Regions from separate parts of the Homo sapiens genome. Here region 1 is linked to region 2. The links come from fine-mapping of genetic effects on gene expression. A gene starts in region 2. The other region holds a variant in brackets. All regions are shown on one strand. Distances are from middle to middle.

Region 1 (5,372 bases), 29 kb after region 2:
TACCTTATTCCTTTTTGTGGCTGAATAATATTCCACTGGATGGATGTAGCACATTTTATCTATTCTTCAGTTGATGGACATTTGGGTTGTTTCTACTTCTTAGCTATTATGAATATTCGCCTGTTCTAGTCACTTTGAGAGAGATCAGTGCCATAGAAGAGAAGTAGGGGAGTGGGGCTACTATTCTTTCTCTTGCTGCCTTTTCACTCCTCTGCTCCTACAAGTGGGAAACCTCCAACCATAGTTTCTTCAGGCTTCTGGAGAAAGCTTGGAACCCCTCCTGCTTCTGGCTCACTCTGTTCCATGCTGATAGGCACAGGAATGTGAAAATGAGTAGCGCTACTGCTGTACCTTTCTTACTCTACCATTAACTTGTTAATGCCTAGTTCATTCCCCAATGTAATTTTCATAGCAACTTTTATAGTTTTTATACTAGATACATGATTTGCTTAGTTTTATCACCTCATCAAAAAAGCTTCCTTTATCAGGCTGGGCCCGGTGGCTCACGCCTATAATCCCAGTACCTTGGGAGGCCAAGGTGGGCGGATCACTTGAGGTCAGGAGTTGGAGACCAGCCTGGCCAACATGTTGAAACCCTGTCTCTACTAAAAACATAAAAAAATTTGCTGGGTGTGATGGCGGGTGCTGGTAGTCCCAGCTGCTTGGGAGGCTGAAGCATGAGAATCACTTGAACCCAGGAGGTGGAGGTTGCAGTGAGTGCAGATTTCGCCACTGCACTCCAGCCTGGGCGACAAAGAGAGACTCTGTCTTAAAAAAAAACAAGCCACCACCAAAAAAAGCTACCTTTATCAATCAAGTACAGTCATGTGTCACTTAATGATGGGGATATGTTCTGAGAAATGTGTCATTTGGCAGTTTCGTTGTTGAGTGAACATTACAGAGTATACTTACACAAACCCTAGATGGTATAGCCTACTACATACCTAGGCTACATGGTGTAGCCGGTTGCGCCTGGGCTACAAACCTGCACAGCAGGTTACTGTACTGAATACTGTACATAATCCTAAGACAATGGTATTTGTATATTTAAACATAGAAAAAGTATGGTTAAAATATCATATAAAATATATTTTAAAAAGGCACACCTGTATAAGGCACTTACCATGAATGGAGTTTCCAGGACTGGAAGTTGTTCTGGGTGAGTCAGTGAGTGAGTGGTGAGTGAGTGTGAGTGCCAGAAACATTACTGTACACTTTACAAACACTGTACACTTGGCCATACTAAATTTATTTTAAAAACATACATTCAATAATAGATTAACCTAACTTACTGTAACTTTCTTACATTTTATAAACTTTTTTTTTTAACTTCTTGACTCTTGTAGTAACACTTAGCTTAAAACACAAACACAGTACAGCTATACAAAAATATCTTTCTTTTATCTTTTTTCCGAGATGGAGTCTCCCTCTGTCACCCAGGCTGGAATGCAGTGGCACGATCTTAGCTCACTGCAACCTCTGCCTCCTGGGTTCAAGTGATTCTCCTGCCTCAGCCTCCTGAGTAGTTGGGATTACAGGCTCCTGCCACCACGCCTGGCTAATTTTTGTATTTTTAGTAGAGATGGGGTTTCGCCATGTTGGCCAGGCTGGTCTTGAACTAATGACCTCAAGTGATCAGCCCTCCTTGGCCTCCCAAAGTGCTGGCATTACAGGCATGAGCTACTGTGCCTGACCCAAAAGTATTTTCTTTTTATCTTCTATAAGCTTTAAATGTTGTTTTTAACTTTTTAAACTTTTTTGTTAAAAACAAAGACACAAACACACACATTAGCCTAGCGCATAGAACTACATAGGGTCAGGATCATCAAGATGTCACTAAGTGACAGGAATATTTTAGCTCCATTATAATCTTACGGGACTACTGTCATACATGCCCTTCGCTGTTGACCAAAATGTTATTATGTGACGTATGACTGTACTTATTCTATGCCAGGTACTTTTTAAGCACTTTATATGAATTATTTAATACTCTGAGCAACTATTATCACCCTCATATTTTAGAGGAGGAAATTGAGATCCAAAGAGGTCAAGCAGGCCAAGTGCAGTGGCTCACGCCTATAATCCTAGCACTTTGGGAGGGCAAGGTGGGCGGATCACCTGAGGTCAGGAGTTCAAGACCAGCCTGGCCAACATGGTGAAATCTTGTCTCTAGCAAAATACAAAAATTAGCCTGGCGTGATGGCGGGTGCTGGTAGTCCCAGTTACTCGGGAGGCTGAGCTGGGAGAATCGCTTGAACCTGGGAGACGGTGGTTGCAGTGAGCCGAGATCGTGCCACTGCACTCCAGCCTGAGCGGCTGAGCAAGACTCCATCTCAAAAAAAAAAAAAAAAAAAAAAGGTTAAGCAGGCAGGGTGCAGTGGCTTTGGGAAGCCAAGGTGGGAGGATTGCTTGAGACCAAGAATTTGAAACCAGCCTGGGCAACATAGTGAGAACCCTGTCTCTACCAAAAAGTAAAAATAAAAAAAATTAGCTGGGTATGGTGGCATGTGCCTGTAGTCCTAGCAACTGGGGAGGCTGAGGCAGGAGGATTGCTTGAGCCCAGGAGGTGAAGGCTGCAGTGAACTATGATCGTGCCATTGCACTCCAGCTTGGGTGACACAGTGAAACCCTGCCTCTTAAAAAAACCAAAAGGGTTAAGGAGTTTGCTTGAGGTAACATAGCTAGTGTGTGTAATGGGGTTCTAACCCAAGTAGTATGACTGTAGAGCTCTGATTGTTAAAATGGCACAGAGTAGGGGGAGACCACACTGTTTTTTTTTGAGACAGAGTTTCATTCTTCTTGCCCAGGCTGGAGTGCAATGGCACGATCTCAGCTCACCGCAACCTCCGCCTCCTGGGTTCAAGCAATTCTCCTGCCTCAGCCTCCAGAGTAGCTGGGATTACAGGCATGCGCCATCATGCCCAGCTAATTTTGTATTTTTAGTAGAGATGGGGTTTCTCCATGTTGGTCAGGCTGGTCTCAAACTCCCGACCTTAGGTGATCTGCCCACATTGGCCTCCCAAAGTGCTGGGATTACAGGTGTGAGCCACTGTGCCCGGCCACTTTCTGCTTATTTTTAACAAATTGCTTTTCCTCTAAGCTGCCTACCTGCCCTTTGAATGAGAAGAGCCCCATTTATGGGCAGCTCAGTCTGTGCAAGGGAGACTTCTGCCCCTGGGTTTGGGGTCAGTGTCTCTCCCAAGTGGTCCTCTGGTGTTTAATGGCTGCAGTAAGGGTGCTGTGGGAGCCACACGGGCTCTGCCTGGCAAAGGCTGGGCTAGGCTCCATTTTCCCCTAGAGAAGCAAGCTGATGGAAAGACCTCTCTACTGGATAAGTTTGTGCAGCCTGCCTCAGGGGAATTCCACTTGTTCTTGCCTCTGCCTG[G/C]GAAAGCCAGGTTCCCTCTTGTTGGAGGTGGGGCTGGGGCTGGATGTAGCACAGGCAAAAAAGGCCTTGGGGTGCTGCTTGGTGCATGCTGAGACCTGTGTCCCTGCCCTGGAGAGTGTGGAGTCCTGCCCGCTTTCTTCCTCACACACCCCTGGACTCCAGGCCTGGCCTTTAAGGGCATGTGCTTATGCATGTTTATGAGCAGGTCTCAGCCCAGTGCATGTGCCTGGGAGTCATGATCCTTCCAGATGGTGTACAGGCTTTCCTGATGGAACCTCTAGTAGGTTTCCTAAGCGTGTATGCTTGGCTTAGGCCATCCCTGGGCAGTGCCCCTAATCTGTTCCCTGACCTTTTGATTTCTTAGAACTTGAAGTTGTCTGTGCAAATGGCTTCTTTTCTGGGTGTTTGAGTTTTGCTGTGTTCTAGAACTCCCTGATGTGCTGCTGTGATGTTGGGGGCCACCAGATTCTGTGTGAGCACAAGCAGGTTCTTCACCTCCCTCCTTGTCTCCCTGCTTTTCTTATCTGATCATCCTTACACTGCCCCCAGCCCCCACGCTCTTGTTCCTCCTGTGCCTGTTGCTTTGGGAGCCAGCTCAGGTATCCTAGAAACAAGGAGAGAAACAAAACTCAGAAAATTCTCTGAGGCCCGGAGGCGAATATCAAACCAAAACAAAGTTTTCTGAAAGGAAATGGAACAGCACAGGAAAGGAGGGTGGGCAGTGTGTCAGGCAGAGGTGGGTAGGAGCTCCAGGCTGAGCATGGAGCCTGTCCTAGTGGCTCCTACATCCCTTGGCCGTTGTTTCCCCACGGGAAGCCCCCCTACTAGAGGATGCCAGACAGCCCCTTTGAGAGACTTAATTGAGTTGAACACCCTTAATTGAGTTGGGCCTTTTCCTCAGCCAGCTGGTGGAAGGTTGATGGGCCTTCAAGCCCAGCACAGCCCCTGTGCCCCTGTGCCCCTGTGCCCAGTCCTGAGAATGGGTTTCTCCTGGCTCCTATGCCAGAATGGCCTGGGTGAGTGCCCTGCGCACAGCTGCTCCTCTCCCGCTGGGATGGGAAGTGTCCCAGCAAGGTGACGGGGTGTATCTGGCAGCTAAGAAGAGACCTCTTGGTTGATTTAAGTGGGGAGGAGAAGAGGGAACCCCTGCTCTCCTGAGGAGGCCCTCCATTTCCTCAGCCCATGTTAAAATTGATTCTGAGATCCTCAGCTTTGAAGCATTGCACTGGGTGTGACAGAATTCTCCTCCTGAACTGTGTTCTCGTGACACCTGAGCTGAAGGAACACAGAGCTACCTTCTTACTTGCTGTAGGGTATTCGCCAGGGACAGTAGAGAGACCAGGTGGGCCTGAGAGAAGAAAAGGTTGGGACTTGGTGCCCAGGATCATGCAGTGTGTTAGCAGACAGGCCTGTGACCTCAGTGTTCTGCTCTTTCCACCTCTACACTGCCCTTGAGCATCAAGGAGTCCTAAATGCCTGAGGTACAGGAGAACCATGGACCTCTCCCCAGGGCCCTCATTCACACTCTGCTACCCAGGAGGTTCCTTGGCAGCCAGGGCTTTGAGATCTTGCCCCTAGTGACTTGAAGACATATTCACTTGTTTACAAATAATTACTGAGGGCCTATCGTCTAGGCCCTGGGAAATTAACAGTAAGTAAAACAGACCAAAAATACCATCCTCACAGAACTGGCAGTCTGGTGTGTGAAGATGGATCCCCACCCCCAGTGTAAGTTATAAGCGTGATTACAAATTGATGTGTGCTTTGGAAACAGTAGAAGCGGTAGCAGTGACGGAGGTAGGGTTGTAATGATAAATAGGGCTGGAGGGCGACATTTGAGCGAGGCCAGAAGCCCCTTTGGCATGCTTCTGTGAGTCATTCTCAGATTTTACCTGGTCTGAAAGAAAACAATTCAAAGGCCCAGGGTCCCTGGTTGACCTTGTGTGTCCTGCTCCCTGTGTCTGTGCTGCCCCATGCATAGCTCATC
Region 2 (5,353 bases):
TCTTTACTAAAAATACAAAAATTAACTGGGTGTGGTGGCGCGTGCCTGTAATCCCAGCTACTCGGGAGGCTGAGGCAAGAGAATGGCTTGAAACCAGGAGTCGGAGGTTGCAGTGAGCTGAGATCGCCACTGCAGTCCAGTCTGGGGACAGAGCAAGACTCTGTTTAAAAAAAAAAAAAAAAAAAAAAAAAAAGCGTGGCTTTGGCCTAAGACTGGAAGTACCCAGATTCCAGACTTAAGAAATCCTCATTAAAATGCTTTCAGTTGTTTTTCATGAAAGAAATGACCAGTGATACTTTGTAAACCATTTATCTGGCCATGAGTGATCAGGTGAGAAAACCGTTAGCGGACACCAGAATGATCTGGAGAGGATTAGGGACGGCTCTTGTGGGCACATTTTTACTCTAGTTTCATGGGTGGAGATGGCATCTGCCGTGGTCTGCAGCATGCAAGTAAAGACACCAGGTGGCACCATTTATTAGCTTTCAATCCCATGGAGAGGTCCCATCATGTAACTACCAAGAGGTTGAAGGAACCAACTACCTCTTGCATATTGTAGCTAATGGTTCTTGCCTTCTTCTTCCAGACTTGGGAAATAAATTTGAAAATCGTATTTTCTGTTTCATAATATTTGCAGTGCATGGTTGAAGGGAAGAAGGCCACGTGCTATTGCCAGTTGGTCTCCAGGAGGTGACATCCATCATCTCCATGTCAACTTGTGAGCTTTACAAATCTAATTTTCAGTACGTGGCTACAGTATACACAAGAAAATATGTGCTTTGCCACTTGGCTCTAAAGGCTCACCGTTGTACACAAGCAATGAGTTTAGGGGTTCTTCCCTCTTGTTATCACATGTCATCTCCACAGGGTTTCAAAAGATCTGGATAGGGTGAGACAGACACACCAGTGTAGTACTCCCTTGGGTCCCTTGTCTTTGGCTTAGGCTTTTTCATAAGGTATAATAATTTGTTAGAGGTTCTTCCCTCTTGCAGACACATGTCATCTCCACAGGGATTCAAAAGATCTGGATAGGGTGAGACGGACACACCAGTGTACTATTCCCTTGGGACCCAAGTCTCTGGCTTAGGCTTTTTCATAAGGTGATTTCTTGTGGTAGTAGTCAAGTGGAGAATACTCAGGAAATACTATTTCATGTAACATTTCCGTGTATTCCCTCTGCCTCCCCCGACATGAGTTAGAAAACTACCCCTCGATCTAGTATCAGCAAGCTCGACAGTGACCTCAGCAAGGAACAGCCCTAGATAAAAGGATTCATAAGTAAATGGAATGAGGAAAAGATCTGGAGCAACAAAGTCCTGGTCAGCTTTAGGTGAGGAAGCACAATGGGATGTTGGAGGCTAAAGAAGCCATGAAACCTAAAGTATTATAACATAGCATATTCACTTCTCTTTCCCCCGCACGCCCAAAGCTCTGTTCAAGGCCACCCTTTCCCCTTTCATGATGACCAGGTTGCCCAGTGCAAAAATACTGTTCTTAGCTATTAAATTGCATTACTCAGAATAATCCTTTCCACGTTGAGTCTACGTGCCGGACTGGCTGCGAGCAGAAACTACTTCAGTCGCTTTAAATCTCAACACTTGTGGTCGCTGGGAGCAGAGCTTTTAGGCTGTAGCTCAGTCTTGTAATTCTGAGCTAGGAGTTTCAGCTACGGTCCCTCGGGCCTATCAGATGACAACCTTAACACCCTGGAGGCGTGGTTATCGTCTTGGGGCTCTGGGAAGTGCAGTTCCATGGGGGACCAGGCCTGATAATACCATAAAAGGCTTGGTTCTCTCAATTCTGAAGCCATGTTCTGTTGACCTTCCTCTAAAAGCGGTACCCGCAATTGTGCGGATTCCGTGGTTCCCTAGTCCCAAGCCGTCTGCTTCCTGGGCCCTTTCATTGGCTCCGCCCCCGTAAACCTTGCTCGTCCACTCTGGAAGCGCTCTCCTGACTACAGGCCGCGCCCCTCGCGTCGGCTCCGCCCACCCAGCCCGCGGCTTGGCCCAGGCGGTAGTTCGCGTTTTGAGCCGATCGTGCCACCATAGCTCCTGCTGCTGCCTCTACCGCTGCGGCTACCGCGGCGGAGCTGAAATTGCCGAACGCGATGCCCGAGGGCGCTGTGAGCGGGGTGGCCTTAGCTCGCCGAGGCTGGTGAGGCTGGGCCCGAACGGGGGCGCTGACGAGTAGCAGGGGCCTCAGAGGCGGGTGAAAGATAAAGGTCCAGAGCCGCTGTGGAGGGCGGAGAGCGAGCTCTGGAGGATAGGGAGTGGGGGAGGGAGGCTCCCGTGGCAGAACGAGTTGTGGGCTACGGCGAGCCCCGCCGCGTCCCCGCCGGCGCTAGCGCAGGTGTCCAGGCCTGCGGAAATCCCTGGTGGTCTCGGCGGCCTCCTCCCTTGGACACTACAGTTGCCATGGGAACAGTTGGGCATTAACGGGAACCAGATCGTCCACGAGACCAACTGGGGCCCATCCCATCCATCTCGCCAGTTAAACGCCTCTGGCGGGCGTGGGCCTGGCATTTCTTCGTGGCTTAGGATTTTCCCCCCCTTTTTCGTGAGCCTTTCCTTCCGACGTTGTAAGAAACTGTGCAGGGCTAGAAGGTGGGGATGAGGGAAATGGTGAGAGCAATACCCAGAGGTAAAAGCTGCAGACTTCGCTAGGCAGAAGGTAAGACACTGTGATACTAAGGTGGCTTCTGCCATCTCAGGTCAGTGAGAGGGCATACTGGGAAGCCCTCTGGAGTGGGAAGACAGTGCCGCTGTTGAGACAAGACCCAGGACTGGGCCGGGGACTGTCCCAAAGGGTTTCTCGTCATAATGGCTGTGGAAGGGTCAACCATTACCAGCCGGATCAAGAATCTGTTGAGATCTCCATCCATCAAACTGCGCAGGAGTAAGGCAGGAAACCGACGAGAGGACCTCAGCTCCAAGGTGAGTCCTGTTGGGATCCACCTCTTTCCAAACCCACCCTCTCCTGCTCCATGTTCCTCGTTAACCTTCCTGTTTCTTGGGAAAGATAACTAGAAGCCCTTGTTGACTCTAAAGGATCACATATGATCTCTGCAGGCAATGATTTGGTTTTAGGTTGAAGGAAAAAGAGCAGCAGGGGTGGGCATGCTGAGATTCATCCATGAGAAAAGGTGAATAGTAGGAAGACCACCTGGGTTCAATTGTGGCCTCACTATACACTAAGCATGTGCTTGGGAAGCCAGTTGATATGCTATGACTCAGTTTCCCTTCTTGGGAGAGGACAGTAGGAACACATACCTTGTGAAGGGCTAAGCTGTGACTAATGTAGCTGCAGGTGTTAACGTAACAGCTGGGGTTATGTAAGACTGTAGTGGCAGAAAGAAATATGCTAAAACACCTAGTCAGAGTTACTGGCTTGGTAATTGCTCTTGCCTACGGTGAAAACAAATTTTTTTTGTCTCTTCAAGAGGCTAACTGGAGCCTTTTGGCTTCTTAGGAATAACATGCAAGAAGCCAGATATCTGTCAGCAAAACAGTTCTGGATGGCCCTTGAGCATTGCTTATCTCATTCACTATATGCCAAGAGCCACATCCCACTCAGCTGCAGATGATCCTCAGAGGCAAAGTTCCTTTCCATCGCTTCACTTGTCTGTGTTTTGGTCCTTATGCTTTTTCAACTAAATAAACCCCACAACTTTGGGAATCCAGAAGTAGTCGACATTTATTTAATCCCTTGAGGGAATCCAGGGCTTTACTCCCACAGGATCAGATCAGATTTTGTGTCTTATTAGTAGCCTGTAAACCCAATAGGGTTGTGAGGTACAAGGTTGTTACAGGGAGAGGCATTTGAGACCACAGCATTGTATTGCTTTGCCTGTATCTCTTCAGTGATGAGTAAATCCCATGAGGAATGATTTAGAATGCCACTGTACAAATGGCAGGGTTCTGGGAGGACTTAGTTCAGCCCTGTGTTCCTTAGCAGAACTTTGAGTAGATTTGGTAAGAAGGTGAAGAGCTTTCCTGTATATTTCAGCAGAAGTTGTGTTGAATCACAGTTTGCTACAAGGTTTTGTGATGGTGGACATTGTGACCCTTCCAAGGTCTCTTATTCATCATTGTTTCTATTCTCCTGAGGCAGGCAAAGAAGCCTGAAATGTAGAAATTGCCTTAGATATGACTCTGTTCATTCTTAATACTGCAAGTGCTCTTATTCTTGGCTGGTAGCTTGGCAGTGACCAGCACTGTTAGAGCAATCTTCTCCAATCTTTGGCCTCTTTTTCTGGCCAGGAATGATATATGTAGTAGAAACATATAATGAGAGTTTAGCCTTCATTGTTAATTCTTACTGTAATTTTGGTCTGGAATCCAGAAAGTATAGTTGCCATTCTTTAAGACTTCCAATATCATCCATTATTAATGCATTTAACAAGTGTTTATTGAGTGCCTATGAAGTGTGCAATCAGTGATGGGTAAAACATTACCCTTGCCATCAAAGAGCTTATGGCTAGTCAGACATGTAAACAATTAAAACACGGTGTGGTAAGTGCTGCTGTAGAAGTATGTGTACGTTGTTAATGGAAGCACAGGGGAGGCGACCTAAGTCAGTTCAGAGGAATTAGGAAAGGCTTCACAGGCCAGGCATGGTGGCTCACCCCTGTAATCCCAGCACTTTGGGAGGCCAAGGCGGATGGATCACTAGGTCAGGAGTTCGAAACCAGCCTGGTCAAGATGGTGAAACCTCATCTCTACTAAAAATACAAAAATTAGCCGGGCGTGGTGGTGCATGTCTGTAATCCCAGCTACTCGGGAGGCTGAGGCAGGAGACTCGCCTGAACCCGGGAGGCTGAGGTTGCAGTGAGCTCAGATCCTGCCAGTGCACTCTAGCCTGGGTAACAGAGCAAGACTCCGTCTCAAAAAAAAAAAAAAAAGGAAAGGCTTCACAGAGGAAGGGATGCTTGAACTGTGAGTCCTAAGGCAGGTGGAGAAGAGCTCTCCAGGAAAACAGTGGAAAAGGGGCATCCCTGGCAAGACCATTTACCATTCCCTGTTTAAAATAGGAATTCAGTGCTTCAGACTGCTTTAGATGGCTTTGTCTGTCCTGAAGCTGTGTATGAAAGAAATACTTAGCTGAAGTTGAATGACCCTTGAATGGTCTGGCAGCAAAATGACTGGTGCATATCTTTAGCACCCAAGAGGAGTAGCTGTCTTTGTGCGCCCAGGACCCTAGAGATGCCAGACTCCCCACACTCCTTAGTAAAAGGTCTCTACCTGAGATTATTCTAAAAGCCTGCCTTGTGATTACTCTAGTGTATTAAGCTCTGTGAGTTGCTCTAACATGTGGTGGCTGTGAGTAATCATGATAACAGGAAATTTGTGATTCA

Alleles and levels. Alleles are on the strand shown, and positions count from the first base shown. SD is a standard deviation of normalised expression in the study named.
As copies of G replace C in region 1, the expression in sun-exposed skin of the gene that starts at base 2,028 in region 2 goes down (moderate effect, 0.44 SD a copy in GTEx).

What was found. PIP is the estimated chance that this variant, and not a neighbour inherited with it, causes the effect. A credible set is the group of variants that fine-mapping cannot tell apart.
Region 1: its variant is the best candidate, but not a certain one, in a credible set for the expression of MAPKBP1 in sun-exposed skin (GTEx, PIP 0.88).

The regions. Positions count from the first base shown.
Region 1 is chr15:41,801,079-41,806,450 of GRCh38, forward strand. The region is part of intron 3 of MAPKBP1 (mitogen-activated protein kinase binding protein 1); the gene reads left to right. Among named protein-coding and RNA genes, the nearest start is that of JMJD7, 24 kb to the right of the region's middle. The variant G/C (reference allele first, on the strand shown) is at 3,386.
Region 2 is chr15:41,772,457-41,777,809 of GRCh38, forward strand. MAPKBP1 (mitogen-activated protein kinase binding protein 1) reads left to right here and starts at 2,028. Exons shown (of 31, transcript NM_014994.3): 1 at 2,028-2,154; 2 at 2,711-2,933. The coding sequence starts at 2,820. RefSeq lists an enhancer at 1,475-1,524.